7 linked regions of the Homo sapiens genome follow. The protein of the gene in region 3 interacts with the protein of the main gene of each other region in a pairwise test. Each region holds a gene or a part of one and is shown on either strand. Other genes may lie near its edges. The genes, in order: MFF, SLC39A6, RETREG3, STAP1, CMTM7, SFT2D1 and DHRSX.

Region 1 (3,500 bases), on a different chromosome or scaffold from region 3:
GGCCAATTAGTATGAGGGAAAATGTTTAATAATTATGGTATGATGTGAACAGCTATTTTATTTAAGTGTAGTGTTAATAGTTTATAGGTGGTTTATAATAATTTACATGCTAAAACAGAAAAAAGTCTTAAATCTTATTTTATGTACATCATTTTAATGGTTGCCTGAATTGTGCCCAGCATTTCCTTTTAAGTTGTTAATTATCTGGAATGTTACTTTTAGTGTGTGAACAAACCTGTCTTTGTTTGTAAGGCTTCATCTTAAATTGGGAGAAATCAGCATTAACAACTCCACAGTTTGGGAAGGTACATATTTAGAAAGGAAATTTAGTTTTAAGCATTTTTATCATCTGTTGATTTAAGGCCTTCTCTCTTATTTTTGCCCTTTTTACACTTTCAGACACGCGTAGGTTGAGCGTTCCTTTCTTCCTGACACGCACAGAGGCTGGCAGAATGGCACATACAAATACATGCAGTTCTTAAGTGCCAAAATCCCCATTTAGTTTTCCTATAGTCTGGAAAAAATCAAAAACTTGTTGGTATTCACAGATGCTATTACTGTATAATTTTTTCAGTCAGTTTTATTTAAGCAGAAATATATTGTCGGTAGCAGTAGATTTAAAACTGGCAGCATCGTTTCTGTGCTTAGAAGTTGGTGCATTCATTGAAGCAAGAGAAAAGGGAAGCATTAGCTGCTCATTAAAATTGAATTCATGGTGGAGGAATTGAAAAGCGTGCCTGTGGTAATCCCTTACCACTCTGCTGACTTGTTTCTTTTTACAATCTTAGTTCAGTTCATTGTCGTTTTCCCTTATATTTTTCTCTAAGTTTGTGATCTTTTATCTTTCTGTCAGAGTATTTTCAGCCAGTGGTCTAACTTAGCATTAGAGTTTTTTAGTTCTAATAAATACGGTTTTTGTTTAAAACACAATGTAAAGTAACATATTTTTGTTTTAAATTGAAGTATATAGGTAAAATCTTTTGTCATATCCTTATATTTCTTTGCAAATCGAGATTTCAGATATCTAAACCTTAGTTAATTCAGGATATAAATTGTGAGTAATCGCTTTCATTTGTACTTCATTCTGTATGTTCAGTTCAGATCCCTTTAACAATTGCTTCTGTTTGATTTTTTTCCTAATTATTCCTCTGTTATGTGGCCTCAGAGAAAGAGAAGAGTTTTATTTTGAGGATGAAGTGAAGGAAAAGGGAATCTTCTACCTTTATTTTTTCCACTAATCATTTGTAAACCCATAGTTCCAGCATCTACTAACTTAGAAGTTTACTTCTCTAACTGGTATAATTACCCTAACTGCTCCAGGTTGTTTACTGTGTTCTCATGAAATAAGGAGACAGTTAATGAGAAAGCAGGATAATTTAGCCATAGAAGGAATATTTGGAGATGGTTGTAGATTATCTAGAGTCAGTACACACCATCTATTGTTTAAGGTTTTTTGCATACTTTATTAAAGTATTTTTATTACTTTTAACAATATTTAAAACAAAAGGATTTTCTGAGTAGACTTGTCTTTAACATGTCTGGATGAAAAGTATAATTCTGCTTCATATCCCTTTTTGTGGGTATGTACTTTTTGTAGTGGGGACTTGCTGGGATAGGTATTAGAATAGATGATCCATTTGCCAATTCTCTGGACTACACAGGAATAACTTTTAATTTAGTTTATTTATATTCTGCTCATTTAGAAAATTTACTATGCCATTTTACTAAAATAACCATTTAGGGTATAAAATACATGTGAGGTGAATTATGTGGTTATATAAGTTGTATCTCAATGAAGCTATTAATTAAACTAAATTTTAAAATGTGGAAATCCAGGCAAAGAAGAGGAATGGCGTTTGTCTTTGTTTTTCAGAGGTTTAGTGTCATTCACCTAGAAATTAGTGCCGCTTTAGAAGTAACTACATTGGAACAAAAAGTACTTTTTTAATATGCTTTCTCTGGATTTTGTCTTAATGGTTTTTCAGTATTATTTTATACACAGCATTTTATTCATTATTGGGCCAATTCTGGAGCTAAATGTAGTGGTAAGATGTATTCAGGAGATTTTATAATTGTTTCTGCGGGAGAACACAGTAGAGCATAAGTAATTGGAAATAAGTAAAGAATAGGCCAGGCGTGGTTGCTCAGGCCTGTAATCCCAGCAATTTAGGAGGCTGAGGTGGGTGGATCACCTGAGGTCAGGACTTTGAGACCAGCCTGGCCAAAATGGTGAAACCCCATCTCTACTAAAAGTACAAAAATTAGCCGGGCATGGTGGCAGGTGCCTGTAATTCCAGCTACTTGGGAGGCTGAGGTAGGAGAATCACTTGAACCCCAGAGGTGGAGGTTGCAATGAGCCGAGATTGTGCCATTGCACTCCAGCCTGGGCAACAAAAGTGAAACTCTGTCTCAAAAAAATAAAAAGACAAGAAGTAAAGAATAAAAATGGCAAGACAAGAGGCAGTGAGAAGAGGTGATGAGTCTTTCTTTTTTTAGAGTTAGTCTACTTTGTGTTCCCTGCTAGTGAGTCTGTGCCTATGGGCTTACATATGGACATAAGTTTGTGTAAGAATTATATTTTGTTCTATCCTAAGTGGCAGCTCTCAAACCTTTTCAGCCAGGGACCCTTTTTAGCATCGCCAATCCTTCTGGCTTGAGAATTTTCTATGTGTTTCTTTAGTCAGGATTTTTTTCCCATTCTCCAGTTTTTAGTGCCCTTTTTCAATATTGTAGACAGTTGTCATTTTAAGCTTTTTTCTTTCCTTTATTAGTACAAATTCAGGTAGTAAAATATTTTAGTAATTCATATTATTAAGTACCAATTTTCTGAATACTACTTTGAGCATTACACAAAGCATGATGTGGCGTGCCATTTACTCTGAGTTCTACTTTACTATTCATTTGTATTTCTATCTCTTATCTGCAGGTATGGCATTTCAAATATAGATACAACCATTGAAGGAACGTCAGATGACCTGACTGTTGTAGATGCAGCTTCACTAAGACGACAGGTATTTAGTGTACCAAATAAGATATATTTCTCAGTTATATTCATACAATATTTTAAAGTGATAGTTCTCAACATTTTATTATTTTCTCTCCTGTGGGACTATCAAACTAGTAAGCCATCATTGATTTTCTCATTTTGATTAAAGATATATTAAACTACCATTTACATGTTTTGATCACCGTAAAACAGTATTACCAAGATAGATTAATGTAATTCTGGCCAGTAACAAAGAATCTTTAGCAAACCAGTACAGCCATCAGTTGCTTGTTTGGCTTTTGAAATGTGGAACAATTACTTTGGAACCTTTGTTACTGTGTTTAATAACTCCATTTTGGAAACCGCTCCTTGCAGCTTGCACAGCATCCCTGCATACGTATTTCCTGTATTCTGTAATAAATCCTTTCTTAGAACTGCAGTTGCACATGCATATTTTTTAATATGTACTCCCACAGCCTCGAGTATCACACAGACATACACACATGTGAAGAAG
Region 2 (2,155 bases), on a different chromosome or scaffold from region 3:
TACCGCTAAAATTGTATTTTATTATTTTATTTTTATTTTTTACTTTGTAAGCAATCAAAGACAATATGTATCTTATATAGTATAAGGTTTTCTATCTCTGAACTAAAGACAAACTACATGTTATATCCAGTTCAGATATGCAGCCAGTAACTGAAGTAGGAAAATCAATATCGCTTTTCATTTTCCAGTGGAAACTGGAACCAATACAAACTTTTTCTTGCCCAGAACATCATGAGTAATCATTGTTAAACTGCTAGGAAATGCTGTGTGACATTGTTAGCTAGAGTCAGTATGTATGTAATCATGTTTTAAGGAATTAACTCACAGTATATCTAGCTACAAATAAAGCTAGTATACTGTCCTATAAATTTTTCTAAAAACTAATCTGTAGTTCTAAAAACTTAAATGTCACTCTTATTTTCCCTTACTTTTTTTTAAAGGTACCTGAAATGCTGCACAATGATGCTAGTGACCATGGATGTAGCCGCTGGGGGTATTTCTTTTTACAGAATGCTGGGATGCTTTTGGGTTTTGGAATTATGTTACTTATTTCCATATTTGAACATAAAATCGTGTTTCGTATAAATTTCTAGTTAAGGTTTAAATGCTAGAGTAGCTTAAAAAGTTGTCATAGTTTCAGTAGGTCATAGGGAGATGAGTTTGTATGCTGTACTATGCAGCGTTTAAAGTTAGTGGGTTTTGTGATTTTTGTATTGAATATTGCTGTCTGTTACAAAGTCAGTTAAAGGTACGTTTTAATATTTAAGTTATTCTATCTTGGAGATAAAATCTGTATGTGCAATTCACCGGTATTACCAGTTTATTATGTAAACAAGAGATTTGGCATGACATGTTCTGTATGTTTCAGGGAAAAATGTCTTTAATGCTTTTTCAAGAACTAACACAGTTATTCCTATACTGGATTTTAGGTCTCTGAAGAACTGCTGGTGTTTAGGAATAAGAATGTGCATGAAGCCTAAAATACCAAGAAAGCTTATACTGAATTTAAGCAAAGAAATAAAGGAGAAAAGAGAAGAATCTGAGAATTGGGGAGGCATAGATTCTTATAAAAATCACAAAATTTGTTGTAAATTAGAGGGGAGAAATTTAGAATTAAGTATAAAAAGGCAGAATTAGTATAGAGTACATTCATTAAACATTTTTGTCAGGATTATTTCCCGTAAAAACGTAGTGAGCACTTTTCATATACTAATTTAGTTGTACATTTAACTTTGTATAATACAGAAATCTAAATATATTTAATGAATTCAAGCAATATATCACTTGACCAAGAAATTGGAATTTCAAAATGTTCGTGCGGGTATATACCAGATGAGTACAGTGAGTAGTTTTATGTATCACCAGACTGGGTTATTGCCAAGTTATATATCACCAAAAGCTGTATGACTGGATGTTCTGGTTACCTGGTTTACAAAATTATCAGAGTAGTAAAACTTTGATATATATGAGGATATTAAAACTACACTAAGTATCATTTGATTCGATTCAGAAAGTACTTTGATATCTCTCAGTGCTTCAGTGCTATCATTGTGAGCAATTGTCTTTTATATACGGTACTGTAGCCATACTAGGCCTGTCTGTGGCATTCTCTAGATGTTTCTTTTTTACACAATAAATTCCTTATATCAGCTTGACGTCAGATGTCTGGTTTTCTTTTTAAAAAAAAATTTTTTTTACCATTGGAACCATTTTTAACTGTAGAGTTCAGTAGTTTTAAGTATATTCATGTTGTGCAATGAATCTCCAGAACTTCTTCATCCTGCAACACTGAAACTCTATACCCACTCAACGCCAACTCCCCATTTTCCCTTAGCCCCTGGTAACCACCATTCTACTTTCTGTTCCTAAAAAATTGAGCTATCTGAATTTTTAAATTATCATCTGGATTGTAGTATACTAATCAATTCATTTATAATATTGTATTGGGTGGCCTTATTCAATTTTTAAATTGTTTATCACAAAGGACACTTCAAAAAATATTGGTCCACAGTTTGTTTTCGGGTGTCTCTCTTTTTTTTTTTTTTTTTAACAACTGGACCTAAAGCTGTAGAAGAAGCATTATTAATATTCTACACTCTCAAGAGAGTCAGTGTTTTAATTCAAGATTTTTACGATGGAGAGCTTGTGATGAGAC
Region 3 (3,500 bases):
ACCTCTGGGCTCAAGCCATCCTCCCACCTCAGCCTCTCAGGTAGTGGGGACTACAGGTGTGTGTCACCACACCTGGTTAATTGTTTTGTATTTTTCGTAGAAACAAGGTTTCACCATGTTGCCCAGGCTGGTCTTGAACTCCTGGGCTCCAGCAGTCCACCCACCTTGGCCTCCCAAAGTGCTGGGATTACAGGTGTGAGCCTCCACACCTGGCCTTAAGTATTTTTAATGATCATAATTAATTCTGGGGAAAATATGGAAAAATGGGCATATGGCTGATAGGAACATAAATTGGACAGCCTTTCTAGCAAGTAGTTTGGTAACATATTTTAAGCCACTTAAGAAGCTTTTCCAGGGCTGGGGGAAATGGAGAAAGAATACTAATGGGTATGGGTTTCTTTTGGAGTGATGAAAATGTTCTGAAATTACATAAGGCTATTAGTCGTACAGCATTGTGATTTTTTTTTCATCTCTGCTGCTGGCAGATGAATTGAAAGAGAATTTTATCGTATACAAACCATTATCTCAATAAAGCTATTTTCTTACTTTTTTTTTTTTGAAACGGAGTCTTACTCTGTGGCCCAGACTGGAGTGCAGTGGCATGATCTCAGCTCACTGCAACCTCTGCCTCCCAGATTCAAGCAGTTCTCCTGCCTCAGCCTCCCAAGTAGCTGGGACTACCGGCGTGCACCACCATGTCTTGGCTGATTTTTGTATTTTTAGTAGAGATGGAGTTTCACCATGTTGGCCAAAGTGGTCTTGAACTCTTGACCTCAAGTGACCCACCTGCCTCGGCCTCCCAAAGGCTGGGATTACAGGTGTGAGCTACGGTGCCCGACCAATAAAGCTATTTGTTTAAAATAGTTAATGCCTTTGACCCAGTAACATGCTCAGTGATGTATAGTTCAGCTTTTATTACATCAAAAAATTGGAAACTTTTGGCTGGGCGCAGTGGCTCATGCCTATAATTCTCAGCACTTTGGGAGGCCGAGGCAGGCAGGTCACCTAAGGTCGGGAATTCAAGACCAGCCTGACCAACAATGGAGAAACCCCATCTCTACTAAAAATGCCAAATCAGCCGGGCATGGTGGCGCATGCCTGTAATCCCAGCTACCTTGGGAGGCTGAGGCAGGAGAATCCGTTGAACCTGGGAGGCAGAGGTTGTGGTGACCCGAGATCGCGCCACTGCACTCCAGCCTGGGCAACAAGAGCAAGACTCCGTCTCAAAAAAAAAAAAAAAAAAAAAGTTGGAACCTTCTTAGTTTATTTTTCGTTTATTTTTCTTTTCTTTTTTTTTTTTGAGAGAGTCTCGCTCTGTCTGTTGCCCAGGCTGGAGTGCAGTGGCGCGATCTCGGCTCACTGCAAGCTCCGCCTCTCAGGTTCACGCCATTCTCCTGCCTCAGCCTCCCGAGTAGCTGGGACTCCAGGCGCCCACCACCACTCCCGGCTAATTTTTTGTATTTTTTAGTAGAGCCAGGGTTTCACCGTGTTAGCCAGGATGGTCTCGATCTCCTGATCTCGTGATCTGCCTGCCTCAGCCTCCCAAAGTGTTGGGATTACAGGCTTGAGCCACCGTCTTAGTTTATTTTATTTTATTTGAGATGGAGTCTTCCTGTGTTGCCCAGGCTGGAGTGCAGTGGCACAATCTCAGCTCACTGCAACCTCCGCCTCCCGGATTCAAGCAGTTCTCCTGCCTCAGCCTCCTGAGTAGCTGGGATTACGGGCACCCGCCACCATGCCTAGCTAATTTTTGTATTTTTAGGTAGAGATGGGGTTTCACCATGTTGGCCAGGCTGGTCTTGAACTCCTGATGTCAAGTGATCTACCTGCTTCAGCCTCCCAAAGTGCTGGAATTACAGGTTTGAGCCACTGCGCCTGGCCCATTCATTGTTTTTTTTGAGAGAAGGTTTCACTCTGTCACCCAGGCTAGATTGCAGTGGTGTGATCATGGCTCACTGTACCCTGGAACTCCTGAGCTCAAGTGATCATTCCACCTCATGGCTGATGAGACCACAGGAGTTCATCACCACATCAGGCTAATTGTCTATGTATTATGTGAAAAAGTTTTAAAACCATAGTGTTTTTATATGTGAATTTTTTAATGAAGAGAATAGCCTGTCTTCACACTTTTTAGAGTACATATGTGGATAATGGATCATTTTAAAAATATTTTATTATGGAAAGCTTAAAACATGTGTAAGTAGGCAGAATAATATTGTGTGCCACCATGTACATAATATTATTTTTTTCAATTCCTGGCCAATTTTGTGTCTTCCATACCCCAGTTCTTTTCTACGTCTTCCTTATTGTTTGACACAAATTATTGATGTGTCATATCATTTAATCTAGGTATTTCAGTATATTTTTCTGAAAAAGAGACTTTAAGAAACATCTGCCATCATTATCACATGCAAAAAATTAATGATTCTAGTCAGTGTTCACATTTCCAATTTTCTTATAAATGTCATAAATGATACTTTTTTTTTTCTTTTCGAGACAGGGTCTTGCTCTGTCTCCCAAGCTGGAGTGCAGTGGCACAATCAGAGCTCACTGCAACCTCAACCTTCTGGCTCTAGCAATCCTCCCACCTCAGCTTCCCAAGTAAATGGGAGTACAAGCGTGCACCACCACACCTAGCTAATGTTTTTCTTTTCAGTAGAGATGAGGTCTTGCTGTGTTGCCTAAGCTGGTCTCAAACTCTTTGACTCAAGTGATCCTCCTGCCTCGGCCTCCCAAAGTATTGGGATTACAGGCTTTAGGTACCACATGTGGCCTGTTGTGTGTGGTTTTATTTGTTGTTTTTTTTTTAAACTCTTTTTTTCCCCACAAACCAATTTGTTAGTGTTTAGGTGGTTTTTTCTGTTTTGCTTTTTTGTTTTTTGAGATAGGGTCTCGCTCTGTCACCCAGGCTGGGGTACAGTGGCACGATAACGGCTCGCTGCAACCTCAGTTTCCCGGACTCAAGCTGTCATCCCACCTCAGCCTGTTGAGTAGCTGGGATTACAGGTGCCCGCCACTATGCCCAGCTAATTTTTTGTATTTTTAGTAGAGACGGGGTTTCGCCATGTTGGCCAGGCTTGTCTCGAACTCCTGACCTCAGGTGATCCACCTGCCTTGGCTTCCCAAAGTGCTGGGATTACAGACGTGAGCCACCATGCCTGTACTTTTTTTTCGATAAACATGAATTCATGTTAGTTGTATAATTTTTTTTTTTTTTTTTTGAGACGGAGCCTTACTCTGTCACCCAGGCTGGAATGCAATGGCACAATCTCAGCTCACTGCAACCTCTGCCTCCTGGGTTCAAGCGATTGTCCTGCCTCAGCCTCCTGAGTAGCTGAGATTACAGGCATACACCACCACGCCCGGCTAATTTTGTATTTTTAATAGACATGGAGTTTCTCCATGTTAGCTAGGCTGGTCTCAAACTCCCGATCTCAGGTTATCCACCCACCTAAGGCTCCCAAAGTGCTGGGATTATAGGCATGAGCCACTGTGCCCAG
Region 4 (3,500 bases), on a different chromosome or scaffold from region 3:
TCTTACAAATGGGAAAATTTCTCATTTTTTCTGGGACCGTTTGAAAATAAGAGAGAGTGTGGGTGGGCCGGGAGCGGTGGCTCATGCATGTAATCCCAGCACTCTGGGAGGCCCAGGTGGGCGGATCACGAGGTCAGGAAATGGAGACCAACCTGTTCAACATGGCGAAACCCCGTCTCTACTAAAAATACAAAAATTAGCAGGGCATGGTGGCACGCACCTGTGGTCCCAGCTACTCGGGAGGCTGAGGCAGGAGAATCACTTGAACCTGGGAGTCAGAGGTTGCAGTGATCCGAGATCGCGCCACTGCACTCCAGCCTGGCAATAGAGCGAGACTCTGTCAAAAAAAAAAAAAAAAAAAAAAAGAAAGAAAGAGAGAAAGAAAGAAAAGAAAAAGAAAGAAAATAAGAGATAGTTTGGGCAACGTCTCATAATTTCTTCAATCTGTGATGTGCTAAAGTAAAAAAAAAAAACAGTGTGTGTGGGCCGGGCCCGGTCCCAGCTATTCGGAAGGCTGAGGCAGGAGAATCGCTTGAATCTGGGAGGCGGAGGTTGCAGTGAGTCAAGATCGTGCCACTGCACTCCAGCCTGGGTGACAGAGCGAAACTCCGTCTCAAAAAAAAAGGAAATTTTTTAGGGCTGTCTAAGTTGTGCTCACACACAGTTCTCTATGGCAGTAATCTCCAAATTTTAAAATAACACACTCCTTTCAGGAAAACATTTTGAGCACAGATCCCTAATATAAGAATATTAATTCAGCCGGGCGTGGTGGCTCACGCCTGTAATCCCAGCACTTTGGGAGGCCGAGGCGGGCGGATCACGAGGTCAGAAGATTGAGACCATCCTGGCTAACAAGGTGAAACCCTGTCTCTACTAAAAAAAAAAAAAAAAAAAAATTAGCCGGGCGAGGTGGTGGGCGCCTGTAGTCCCAACTACTCAGGAGGCTGAAGCAGGAGAATGGCGTGAACCCAGGAGGCGGAGCTTGCAGGGAGCGGAGATTGCGCCATTGCACTCCAACCTGGGCAACAGAGGGAGACTCCATCTCAAAAACAACAAAAAAAGAATATTAATTCATTTGGAAATTATAAATATATATATTCCCGTACTATTAATCCATGTAAATTATTTGATATATAAAAAATGAATTAAGAAATATGAAATAAAATATAATTAAATATTCTAAAATTTTCTCTCCCAATGGATCATCTTGCACACCTTTGGAATTTATGCATCCCATTTTGGAGACCACTATACAACATTCTTCCTTAGGTAAATGTACTTTACTTGCGCACAAAAACAAAGAATGAGAGCTTTTTATTGGGGACAGAGGAAGAGAAACTTAACTGGAGCTTGCATTGTAATTCATTTTTGCTAGTTAATTCATTTTTGCTAGTTGTATTAATGAGAAAAGAGCACTGGGAAGTCAAGAGATAAAAGTATCAGTCCAATTCTAGAATTTGGGCGATTCCTTCACATTTTTAAATCTGTTCTCTCCTTTCTAAAAAGAATAATTACTCTCTTGCATAGCTGAATAGGTTGCTCCAATGACTAAGTGGACTATATAATAATGAATGCAACCTTTTGAGGTATAACATATAATGGATCCCATTCTAGGCTCTTAGTGTTCTGTCACTGTGATCCTTACAGTAACTCTTCTGGGTAGAAATTATTTTATTCACTTCACAAATGAGTGAGTAGGTGAGGCATGCTGGCTCATCCCTGTAATCCCAGCACTTATGGAGGCCAAGGCAGGAGGATTGCTTGAGGCCAGGAGTTGGAGATCAGCCTAGGCAATATAGCGAAACCCCATTTCTACAAAATCAAAAAATTAGCCAGGCGTGGTGGCACACCCTGTATTCTCAGGTACTCGGGAGGCTGAAGTGGGAGGATCACTTGAACCCAGGAGTTCGAGGCTGCAGTGAGCTATGATTGCATCACTGCACCCCAGCCTGAGCAACAGAGCGAGACCCTGTCTCTCTAAAACAACAACTCCAAATAAACAAATGAGTGAGTTCTGGCCACAGAGGTTATTCAAGGTTCCTCTTCCATTAAGGAGGCTAGCTTGGATTTGATTGTGATGCACTTGACCATGCTGCTTCTCAAACTCAAATTCTACCATTTGATTGTAGGTTTCCTAGTTAAGCTAGTGATAAATTCAGAAGTCTTATTTCAGCCTCTTTTCTTACATCAATGATTTCACACAAACGATTGTTAAAAAAAAAAAAAAAGAAATTTGTGCTTCATTCCAAAGATATGTCCTTCCAAATTAATTTTTTTAATTTTTAAGTATTTCTCTAGATATGAATAGGTACCTAGATGTTGTTTATTGAGATTGATATTTATAAATGACTCAGATTCTATGTGTATTTATTACATCTTATCGAAATGAAATCAAGATTGTGACCTGTAAGTCTCTGCATACTGAATATAAGTTTGGTCTGTCCTTAGGTTTGCAGCTGTGGTTGCAGTTCACATGGTCTAATGCTATTTGTAACCTTACTTTTCCTCCAGGGCTGCCTTTGCTTTCAACTTAGTGCCTTTATACTTGCTTTTCCCCCCATTTAATAAATCCTTAATCCTTTCCACAAGTATATACGTTTGCTTACCTGTAAAACTCCCATTTTTCCCTATTTAACTTTACCCAATTCATATCATTCTTTTGAGACTGAACACCTCTACAATTTTTCTCGATAGTGCAATGGAGGTCTGCATGTACATACAGAGGGAATTCAATAAACCTTTACTGGCTATCAGTAATACTAGTTTTTATACCTTATGGCAGGGTAATACTGTAGTTATGAGGCTGATTAGGACGATGAACAGAGTGGTAGGCTTTGACTTCAGGGTTTTCTCTTGTATTTTTTTCCTCCAGGAATCATACAATCCTGGAGTTGGACTAGATCTTAGAAGCCATACTTTAGTAAAATTGCACAAATGACACTTTGGGAGCCTGAGGCGGGTGGATCACTTGAGGTCAGGAGTTCGAGACCAGCCTGGCCAACATGGTGAAACCCTGCCTCTACTAAAAATACAAAAATTAGCCAGGCATGGTGGCATGTGCCTGTAATCCCAGCTACTTGGGAGGCTGAGGTGGGAGAATGGCTTCAACCTGGGAGGCAGAGGTTTCAGTGAGCAGAGATCAAAATCACACCACTGCATTCCACCCTGGGTGACAGGAGACTCCATCTCAAAACAAACAAACAAACAAACTACACAGATGATAAAGTTCTCAGAACAATATGCATTTCTCTACATTCCCATCTCCTCCTGCACTGTTCCTCACCTGCTTCCCAGCTCCAAAAAACAGGAGAGCCTTGATTTACTCCTTTCATTGCAGAGGCTTACCATTAATGCAGGGTGGGGAAGCCTTAAAAAGAGTTGGTCGGATAAGCAAAGAAACAAAACAACTTGCAAGATAAATTTTAATTATTTTGTTATGTAATTATAGGTCAGATTGAGAAAGTACAAGTATTTTTTAACAGAGTGAAAAAAACTAGTCA
Region 5 (3,500 bases), on a different chromosome or scaffold from region 3:
CCAAGATCATGCTACTGCACTCCAGCCTGGGCAACAGAGTGAGACTCCATCTCAAAAAAAAAAGAATCACTCCTCCATAGGAGAGAGGCAGTGTATAAAATAATCTTTTTTCTAAATTGGTTGTGCATTTTAAATAGATTCCTGGCTGGAAACAATGGCTTACGTCCATAATCCCAGCACTTTGGGAGGCCAAGGCAGGGGGATTGCTTGAGCTCAGGAGTTTGAAACCAGCCTGGGCCACATGGCAAAACCCCGTCTCTACTACAAATATGAAAATTAGCCAGGCATGATGGCACACGCCTGTAATCCTAGCTACTTGAGAAGCTAAGGTGGGAGGATGACTTGAGCCCAGGAAGCAGAGGTTGCAGTGAGCTGAGATTGGTTCACTGCACTCCTGCCTGGGGAACAGAGCCAGACTCTATCTCAGAAAAACAAAAACTAAATAACTAAATAAATAAGTAGATTCTAAGATTTTACACACATTGAATCCCGTGTGTTACTGGTTTGTTCCCTACATGGAGTAGACAGGTTTTCTCTTTGGCCTTCACGGAAGCTCAGACTGTTACTCATTCTACTTTCTTGTACTCATGCATTGCTAATAGTTTTCATCTGGTTATTAATTCAGTAGCAGGCCGTTAAGCATGTTCACTCGTGCTGAGATATTTCTTAGTGAGCTCTCACCACATGCCCTGATGGTGAGCAGCCTCACCTCTTAAACAGGATTCCTGCATGGTTGAGAACCCGTCCACCTTTCTCGGCTTGTTATGATCAGAGCTTACACTTTTGGGAGGTAGAACTGCATCTGACATGGAGGAACATGGTCCTTAGAGTCAGACAGACCTGGATTCAAATCCCACTTCTGCTTACAAGCCAGATAGCCTTGGACTGATGATTGAACCTGCATGCCTCCGTTTCCCCTTATGAACATGGGGATGATTTTGTCTACCTGGCAGGGTTCTGCATGGCCTTAGCGAGATCACGTATGTCAGACATCAGTAAATGGTAACTTGTTATCTGTCAGTTGATAGCTGTAAGGTATGAATTACCATCTTTGTAGGTCAAAAACCATCAAATATTGGCAACTTCGTACAATTGGGCCTAATATGTAAACCCCAGGTCACCATCACGCTGTCCTCTTTGCTCTATGGATATCCAGCAGATGAAAGGGATGGTTCTGCTTTGTTATTTTCTTGTTTTCCTGCTTCTTCTGAGGGGGCTTCCCGCTGGCACAATCTAACAAACTTCAGAGAGGACGAAGTCAGTCTCTGCTGTCATCAGTGTTCACAGACAGTAGTTTCAAAGTGTGTACCACATGAAGTTGCAGTCTTCCAACCTTCCAGCCAGTGTGTATGGAAATAACCTGAATTGTATTAATAGCAGTTCTTCAATGTGGGCCTGCTGGGGGATGCTTGGTTGTTTTCCGTTGTTTGTTCCCTGGGTGCCCGTCTTGGGCAAGCATTTCTCTGATGTCTCTATTTATGTGGCAGGTCACCCTGCTGATTGCCTTCATCTGTGTGCGGAGCTCCCTGTGGACCAACTACAGCGCCTACAGCTACTTTGAAGTGGTCACCATTTGCGACTTGATAATGATCCTCGCCTTTTACCTGGTCCACCTCTTCCGCTTCTACCGCGTGCTCACCTGTATCAGCTGGCCCCTGTCGGTAAGAGAGTGGTCTGGCCCTGTCCTCCGCATGCACAAGTCAGGATGTTAGCTAGAGTACTGAGACCTGACAGAGTTTTTCCCGTCTGCCCATCTCACCTCTTTAACCATTCTTTGCTGCCTCTGCCCTGAATTTCCTATTGTTTGGTGGACATCTCTGCTTGATGTCCTGCTGGTTTTTAAAACTCACTTTCCAGCTACAAGAAGGCTGTGGCTGGCCGGGCGCGGTGGCTCACGCTGGTAATCCCAGCACTTTGGGAGGCTGAGGCGGGCGGATCACGAGGTCAGGAGTTCGAGACCACGGTGAAACCCCGTCTCTACTAAAAAATACAAAAAATCAGCCGGGCGTGGTGGCGGGTGCCTGTAGTCCCAGCTACTCAGAGAGGCTGAGGCAGGAGAATGGCGTGAACCCGGGAGGCGGAGCTTGCAGTGAGCCGAGATCGAGCCACTGCACTCCAGCCTGGGTGACAGAGCGAGACTCCTCTCAAAAAAAAAAAAAAAAAAAAAAAAAAAAAGAAGAAGGCTGTGGCTATTGCCCCATGCTTACTTTCTCAAGCAACAGAGAATGGCTGTGTGTGTATGAGTTGGGAAAAGGAACACGGAAGGAAATTGTAGGTGAAGATGATGGGTATTGATGCTGTTGTGAGGATTGAATGATAGGATTTTCTGGCTAAAAGAGACTAGTGGGGGCTGAGGAGACAGTCAGAAGTTGCCAGACTTTTTCTTCCCACTGTATTATTTTTTAAAGCTTCATTGAGATGCAGTTCATATGCCGTATTGTTCACCCATTTCAAGGGTACAATTCAATGGAGTTTAGTATATTTCCAGAGTTGTCCAACCATTACTACAGTCAACTTGAGAACATTTTCATCATTTCAGAAAGAAATTCCATACCTTTTAGCTGTCACCTCCCTACCACTCATCCCTCCAGTCCTAAGCAATCACTAATCTTCTGTCTCTAAAATTTTTCTACTCTGAACGTCTCATGTAAATGGAATTGTATATGTGGTCTTTTGTAACTGGCATCTTTCACTTAGCTGAATGTTTTCATGGTTCATCCATGTTGTAGCAGGTATCAGTATTTCATTCCTTTTTTTCTTTTTAGAGACAGGGTCTCACTCTGTCACCCAGGCTAGAGTGCAGTGACGTGATCGCGACTCACTGCAGCCTCAACCTCCCAGGCTCAGGTGATCTTCCCACCTCAGCCTCCCGAGTAGCTGAGACTACAGGTGCATGCCACCACACCTGGATAATTTTTGTGTTTTTTTTTTTACAGAGATGAGGTTTCATTGTGTTGCCCAGGCTGGTTTCAAACTCCTGGCCTTAAGCAATCCTCCCACTTTGGCCTCCCAAAGTGCTGGGATTACAGACATGAGCCACCATGCCAGCCTTTTTATAACCAAATTTTATTCCATTGTGTGGATAGACCAGACTGCATTTTGTTTTTCATTCATCTTCAGTGGACCTTTGGGTTGTTTTTACCTTTTGGCTATTATGAATAATGCTGCTATGAGCATTCATATACAAGTTTTTTGTGTGGACATATTTTCATTTTTCTCTGGTATGTATCTAGGAGGGGAATTACTGAGTCATATGGTCACTTTGTGTTTAATTGTTTGAGGAACCGCCAGACTGTATGCCAAAGTGGCTCACTGTTTTACATTCCCACCAGGAGTGTATGAAGGTTCCAGTTTCACAACATCTTTGCCAACACTTATTATCTGACTTTCTGATTCCAGCCATTCTAGTGAGTGTAAAGTGTTATTTCCTGTGGTTTTGATTTTCATTTCTCCAGTGACTAATGATGTTAATCATCTTTTCATGTGCTTTTGGCCATTTG
Region 6 (3,159 bases), on a different chromosome or scaffold from region 3:
AATAGCAGCTTGCCATGATAATGTCTGTATGGAAACATTTTGGCGACATGGAGCAGCTCTGTGGGGAGTATCCTCCCGCCCTGCTGCCTGGCGTGCACTAGGGAATGTGGATGAGATTCTGGACCCTTCCATGGCTTTAGGAGTTCAGAAAATAGGACACAGAGACTCCAGGAAAACAAATTCTACTTAAGAAAAGGAAGTTACGGCTGGGTGCGGTGGCTCACACCTGTAATCCTAGCACTTTGGGAGGCCAAGGTGGGCAGATCACTTGAGGTCAGGAGTTCAAGACCAGCCTGGCCAACATGGCAAAACCTCGTTTCTACTAAAAAATACAAAATTAGCTGGGTGTGGTGTGGGCGCCTGTAATCCCAGCTACTTGGGAGGCTGAGGTGGGAGAATCACTTGAACCCAGGAGGCAGAGGTTGCAGTGAGCCAAGATCGTGCCACTGCACTCCAGCCTTGGTGACAGAGCCAGACTCCATCTCAATAAAAAAGGAAGTTACTGGGAAAATGAGGGCTTACACATAAATGCTTATTTTTGGTCAGCAAAAACATTTTAATTGTATGTCAAGAGGTAACCGGCATTTTAAAATATTTTTCCAGAGAAATGTATTTAGCCGTGGAGGAGAAAACAAAACTAGTTCCAATTTTAAATCTGATAGATTTAGAAAAAGATTCTGGTGAGGCACAGCTTTGCCTGTTTGTGAAATTCAAAGATATGTTATATATTTAAAAACAGCAAAATTGTCTTTAATACGAACAGTGAAGGAAATTGGTAGAAATTTTATTTTTATTCCATTTCAAATGTATGATTCTTTCTGATAGATACTTACAAGGAGAAAAAGCAAAACAAAGTTAGCTACAGGTGAGAAAGCTGCTTAACAGGAGTGTGCAAGGGTAATTTACCATGCATAGGAACTTTAGAGCAAGGAGACCTCCAATACTTCTTGGTGCGGAGGAAAGGACCTCTAGACGTGATGTCCCATACAAGAGGCTCTGAAGAGATGGCAGGACTTCAAGAACATGACCAGCCTCTCCAGACACAGGATCCCACACTCGAGAGCAATAAGCAATGTACAGATTTTGCCTATAAGAATTTTATTAGTGGATATTTTTTATGGCCTAGGTAAAAGCTTTTTTAATGAATGAAGTATCAAGTAATAACAGTTTTGGAAGAAAATATGAAAGGTCACACTTCAATCTTCTTTTAATTCTGAGGATTCAGTTATAAACATTACAGTTTTGAAACTCAGTTCATTAGTTCTTTTTTTTTTTTGAGATGGAGTCTCATTTTGTCACCCAGGCTGGAGTACAATGGCGTGATCTCTGCTCACTGCAACCTCCACCTCCCAAGTTCAAGAGTTTCTCCTGGCTCAGCCTCCTGAGTAGCTGGGATTACAGGCACGTGCTGCCGCTGCCACGCCCAGCTAATTTTTGTGTTTTTTAGTAGAGATGGGGTTTCACCATGTTGGCCAGGCTGGTCTTGAACTCCTGACCTCAAGTGATCCACCTGCCTTACAGGCGTGAGCCACCTTGCCTGGCCTAGTTCTTTTTAAAAATTAAATCTTTGGGCTGGGCTTGGTGGCTCATCCCTGTAATCCCAGCATTTTGGGAGGCTGAGACGGGTGGATGGCTTGAGCGCAGGAGTTTGAGACCAGCTTGGGCATCATAGCAAGACCCTATCTCTATTAAAAAAAAAAAAAAAAAAATTAGTGTAGTGGTGTGCCCTATAGTCCCAGCTCCTTGGGAGGCTGAGGTGGGAGGATCTGCTCACGCCACTGCACTTATCCTGGAAGACAGAGTGAGAACCTGTCTCAAAAGGAAAAAAAAAGAAAAAAGTTAGATCTTTTGTTAGGTTATTTTTGGTATTTAAACTTATTTCTTTGATTGAGATCAGTGTATATGCCAGTAAAAATTTCTTAAGATAAATACCATGTCAAAAATCAGCAAAATGTTTTCAAATCTTAGCTCTTAATCTTAAATGATACTGAACAAAGTTTTTATTAATCAAAAAGTGTGTTGGAGCATCCATTGAGTTCTGTTAAAAAAGGTGATTTAGCAGGAACATTTTGCGCAACTTTGCTTTTGAGGAATATTATATTCTGTTTTTTTCCCTCTCTTTTCCACCAGGGATGCAGTTATTAAATGCTGTTCTTCTCTCCTAAGTTGAAAATCAGAAACTTGTGGAAAAGAGCACTTGAATGTTGGTACTCTATGTTTGGTGAAGTTTGCTTTTCCCCATAAAACACTCCAGGAACAACTGACGTGACAGTTGAAGACCGTTTTGTACTAAGTCTCATTTTGTATACTGGTAAAAACTACATGCTTGATTAAACCATTAAATGCTTGTAACTTTAAATTCATTATGTGTCATTAATATACTTTTCCAAAGATAAGATTTTTAATCACTGCCAGTTGTAAATTATTTTTAGCCAATTTTTAAATCTTTTCAAAGCAGCTTTGAAATGTGAATATTTAAAGGTAGACCTGTGCTGCAAGATAATTAAACTTTTTTGCTTTTAAAAAATGTCTGCATTTTTAAGATTTTTTTTACTTTAAATGTGAAACTTATTTTAAGCTAAAAATTGCTTATTATATGTAATAAAAATAATATATAAATCTTTACAATTTTGAAATAAACCCATCCTTGGAAAAATAACATTTTCTGAATCAAATTTATAATATTTTAAGTGACTCAATTCAATAATATTTAGTTTAGGCACTATACAGTCTCTCTGTAGAAAAATGAGGAAGATACAGTCTCTCCCCTAAATAATACTGTTAAATACAAATTGTGAGAGATAATGGGACTGACAGCAGAGCCCATTCCAGGAAGTGCAGGGGGAGGAGGTGAGGCGGCATTGACTGTGAGGGTGTCAGGAGAAGTCAGGCCACTGGACAGTAGTGGCAGCAGGAAGCTACCTTCACCCCAGGCTGGAGGAGAAGCAGAGAGGGCGGAGAACTAGCCAGCGCCCTCCTCCTCCCTGCAAGTCTCCCACTGGCTGTCCTGGTCTCCTCAGTTGCCAGGGAGAGGCAGATAGGCGGGTGCCAGCATGATGTGGTGCCAGCAGGAGGGAAGGCGGCTCTATGTCTGTCCAGGGTAGGGAGAGTTAATAAAGAGCATACAACAGGGTAATGGGAGCAGCATTTTATGCACAG
Region 7 (3,500 bases), on a different chromosome or scaffold from region 3:
AACTCCTTCTGATATTCTCTTTTGTCCAGCTGGGGTGATGATGGTCCCTCAGAGGAAAACCAGAGATGGATTCGAAGAACATTTCGGCCTGAACTACCTAGGGCACTTCCTGCTGACCAACCTTCTCTTGGATACGCTGAAAGAGTCTGGGTCCCCTGGCCACAGTGCGAGGGTGGTCACCGTCTCCTCTGCCACCCATTACGTCGCTGAGCTGAACATGGATGACCTTCAGAGCAGGTAGGTGCACCCTGTGAATAATCATAACAGCATCTCAGGTGGGTTAAAGGTTATTCATCTCCCTCTGTCTGTGCGGTGTGGCGCTCCCTGCATCTGCTGGACGCTGGTGCTCTGGGAACAGTGCTCCCTGCGTCTGCCGAGCACTGGTGCTTTGGGGACAGTGCTCCCTGCATCTGCCGGACACTGGTGCTCTGGGGACAGTGCTCCCTGCATCTGCCGAGCACTGGTGCTCTGGGGACAGTGCTCCCTGCGTCTGCCGAGCACTGGTGCTCTGGGAACAGTGCTTCCTGCGTCTGCCGAGCACTGGTGCTCTGGGAACAGTGCTCCCTGCATCTGCTGTACACTGGTGCTCTGGGGACAGTGCTCCCTGCATCTGCCGAGCACTGGTGCTCTGGGGACAGTGCTCCCTGTGTCTGCCGAGCATTGGTGCTCTGGGGACGGTGCTCCCTGTGTCTGCTGTACACCGGTGCTCTGAGGACAGTGCTCCCTGCGTCTGCTGGACACCGGTGCTCTGGGGACAGTGCTCCCTGCGTCTGCCAAGCACTGGTGCTCTGGGGACAGTGCTCCCTGCATCTGCTGTACACTGGTGCTCTGGGTACAGTGCTCCCTGTGTCTGCCGTACACTGGTGCTCTGGGTACAGTGCTCCCTGCGTCTGCCGAGCACTGGTGCTCTGGGGACAGTGCTCCCTGCGTCTGCTGTACACTGGTGCTCTGGGAACAGTGCTTCCTGCGTCTGCCGAGCACTGGTGCTCTGGGAACAGTGCTCCCTGCATCTGCTGTACACTGGTGCTCTGGGGACAGTGCTCCCTGCATCTGCCGAGCACTGGTGCTCTGGGGACAGTGCTCCCTGTGTCCGCCGAGCATTGGTGCTCTGGGGACGGTGCTCCCTGTGTCTGCTGTACACTGGTGCTCTGAGGACAGTGCTCCCTGCGTCTGCTGGACACCGGTGCTCTGGGGACAGTGCTCCCTGCGTCTGCCAAGCACTGGTGCTCTGGGGACAATGCTCCCTGCATCTGCTATACACTGGTGCTCTGGGGACAGTGCTCCCTGCGTCTGCCGAGCACTGGTGCTCTGGGTACAGTGCTCCCTGCGTCTGCTGTACACTGGTGCTCTGGGTACAGTGCTCCCTGCGTCTGCTGTACACTGGTGCTCTGGGGACAGTGCTCCCTGCATCTGCTGAGCACTGGTGCTCTGGGGACAGTGCTCCCTGCATCTGCTGGACACTGGTGCTCTGGGGACAGTGCTCCCTGCTTCTGCTGGACACTGGTGCTCTGGGGACAGTGCTCCCTGCGTCTGCTGGACACTGGTGCTCTGGGGACAGTGCTCCCTGCGTCTGCTGTACACTGGTGCTCTGGGGACAGTGCTCCCTGCGTCTGCTGAGCACTGGTGCTCTGGGGACAGTGCTCCCTGCGTCTGCTGAGCACTGGTGCTCTGGGGACAGTGCTCCCTGCGTCTGCTGAGCACTGGTGCTCTGGGGACAGTGCTCCCTGCGTCTGCTGAGCACTGGTGCTCTGGGGACAGTGCTCCCTGCGTCTGCTGAGCACTGGTGCTCTGGGGACAGTGCTCCCTGCGTCTGCTGGACACTGGTGCTCTGGGGACAGTGCTCCCTGCGTCTGCTGAGCACTGGTGCTCTGGGGACAGTGCTCCCTGCGTCTGCTGGATACTGGTGCTCTGGGGACAGTGCTCCCTGTGTCTGCTGGACACTGGTGCTCTGGGGACAGTGCTCCCTGCGTCTGCTGAGCACTGGTGCTTCCTGCATCTGCTGGGCACAGGTGCTCTGGCTACGGTGCTCCCTGGAGTCTGCTGGGCATGGGTGCTCTGGGCACAGTGCCCCCGCATTTGCTGCACATTGGTGCCCGGCATAGTGCTCCCTGCATCTGCTGGGCATGGGTGCTCTGAGAACGGTGCTCCTTGCATCTCCTGAGCATTGTGCTCTGGGCACGGTGCTCCCTGTGTCTGCTGAGCACAGGTGCTCTGGGCACGGTACTCCCTGTGTCTGCTGGGCACAGGTGTTCTGGGCACACTGCTCTCTGTGTCTACTGGGCGCACGTGCCCTGGAAATGGTGCTCCCTGGATCTGCTGGGCACAGATGTTCTGGGCACGATGCTCCCTGCATCTGCTGGGCATGGTCCTCTGGGAACAGTGCTCCCTGCATCTGGTGGGCACTGGTGCTCTGGGCATTGTGCTCTCTGCGTCTGCTGAGCACAGGTGCTCTGGGCACAGTGCTCCCTGAGTCTGCTGGACACAGGTGCTCTGGGCACGGTGCTCTCTGCGTCTGCTGAGCACAGGTGCTCTGGGCACAGTGCTCCCTGAGTCTGCTGGACACAGGTGCTCTGGGCATGGTGCTCCCTGCATCTGCTGGGTAGAGGTGCTCTGGGCACAGTGCTCCCTGAGTCTGCTGGACACAGGTGCTCTGGGCACGGTGCTCCCTGAGTCTGCTGGGTAGAGGTGCTCTGGGCACGGTGCTCCCTGCTTCTGCTGGGTAGCGGTGCTCTGGGCACACTGCTACCTGTATCTGCTGGGCACATGTGCTCTGGAAATGGTGCTGCCTGCATCTGCCGGGCACAGGTGCTCCTGGCGCTGTGTTGTGGGATATGTACATCCCCAGCCATTTGCTGTCCTTGGGCAACTTAGCAATGTGCGATGGTATTGTTACTTTATTTTTTAGAAGGAACAAGAAACACAGAGGTGAGACATAGAAAAGGAAAACGGATCTATTTAAACCTTCTCTTGTGCCCCCATGGGAATGTCAGGCACTGCATCTGCAGGTGGCATTGGTGTGGACTCCTGTCGACACGCAATGTACTGTCTGTCCATCAGCAGGTCTCTCTTGTGAATTCCTCCTAACCCCGCCTTAAGGATAAAAACGATTCCTCTGTGGGAATAATCATCTTAGTTTGTTTAAGCTGATATAAGAAAAAATCCAGCAGTCCGGGTGTGGTGGCTCACGCCTGTCATCCCAGCACTTTGGGAGGCTGAGGCAGGTAGATCACGAGGTCAGGAGATCGAGACCATCCTGACCAACATGGTGAAACCCCATCTCTATTAAAAATACAAAATTAGCCAGGCGTGGTGGTGGACGCCTGTAATCCCAGCTACTCGGGAGGCTGAGGCAGGAGAATCGCTTGAACCCGGGAGGCGGAGGTTGTGGTGAGCCAAGATCACGCCACTGCACTCCAGCCGGAGTAACAACAGCAAAATTCCGTCTCAAAAAAAAAAAAAAAAAAGAAAGAAAAATTCCATAGTTTGGGTGGCTTATAAAT

The links.
Region 1: the proteins of RETREG3 (region 3) and MFF interact in binary tests that used the Homo sapiens proteins (3 or more experiments, as listed by UniProt).
Region 2: the proteins of RETREG3 (region 3) and SLC39A6 interact in binary tests that used the Homo sapiens proteins (3 or more experiments, as listed by UniProt).
Region 4: the proteins of RETREG3 (region 3) and STAP1 interact in binary tests that used the Homo sapiens proteins (3 or more experiments, as listed by UniProt).
Region 5: the proteins of RETREG3 (region 3) and CMTM7 interact in binary tests that used the Homo sapiens proteins (3 or more experiments, as listed by UniProt).
Region 6: the proteins of RETREG3 (region 3) and SFT2D1 interact in binary tests that used the Homo sapiens proteins (3 or more experiments, as listed by UniProt).
Region 7: the proteins of RETREG3 (region 3) and DHRSX interact in binary tests that used the Homo sapiens proteins (3 or more experiments, as listed by UniProt).

Annotation. Positions count from the first base shown.
Region 1 is NC_000002.12:227,352,751-227,356,250, forward strand, and holds part of MFF (mitochondrial fission factor), read left to right. Parts: intron 1-2,926; coding exon 2,927-3,011; intron 3,012-3,500. UniProt on the Homo sapiens protein: Plays a role in mitochondrial and peroxisomal fission. Promotes the recruitment and association of the fission mediator dynamin-related protein 1 (DNM1L) to the mitochondrial surface.
Region 2 is NC_000018.10:36,108,031-36,110,185, reverse strand, and holds the end of SLC39A6 (zinc transporter ZIP6 isoform 1 precursor), read left to right. Parts: intron 1-440; coding exon 441-593; 3' UTR 594-1,655; downstream 1,656-2,155. UniProt on the Homo sapiens protein: Zinc-influx transporter which plays a role in zinc homeostasis and in the induction of epithelial-to-mesenchymal transition (EMT).
Region 3 is NC_000017.11:42,599,375-42,602,874, reverse strand, and holds part of RETREG3 (reticulophagy regulator 3), read left to right. Parts: intron 1-3,500. UniProt on the Homo sapiens protein: Endoplasmic reticulum (ER)-anchored autophagy regulator which exists in an inactive state under basal conditions but is activated following cellular stress.
Region 4 is NC_000004.12:67,561,727-67,565,226, forward strand, and holds part of STAP1 (signal-transducing adaptor protein 1), read left to right. Parts: intron 1-3,500. UniProt on the Homo sapiens protein: In BCR signaling, appears to function as a docking protein acting downstream of TEC and participates in a positive feedback loop by increasing the activity of TEC.
Region 5 is NC_000003.12:32,440,353-32,443,852, forward strand, and holds part of CMTM7 (CKLF-like MARVEL transmembrane domain-containing protein 7), read left to right. Parts: intron 1-1,487; coding exon 1,488-1,661; intron 1,662-3,500.
Region 6 is NC_000006.12:166,319,228-166,322,386, reverse strand, and holds the end of SFT2D1 (vesicle transport protein SFT2A), read left to right. Parts: intron 1-2,130; coding exon 2,131-2,170; 3' UTR 2,171-2,659; downstream 2,660-3,159. UniProt on the Homo sapiens protein: May be involved in fusion of retrograde transport vesicles derived from an endocytic compartment with the Golgi complex.
Region 7 is NC_000023.11:2,263,477-2,266,976, reverse strand, and holds part of DHRSX (polyprenol dehydrogenase), read left to right. Parts: intron 1-29; coding exon 30-237; intron 238-3,500. UniProt on the Homo sapiens protein: Oxidoreductase that plays a key role in early steps of protein N-linked glycosylation by mediating two non-consecutive steps in dolichol biosynthesis.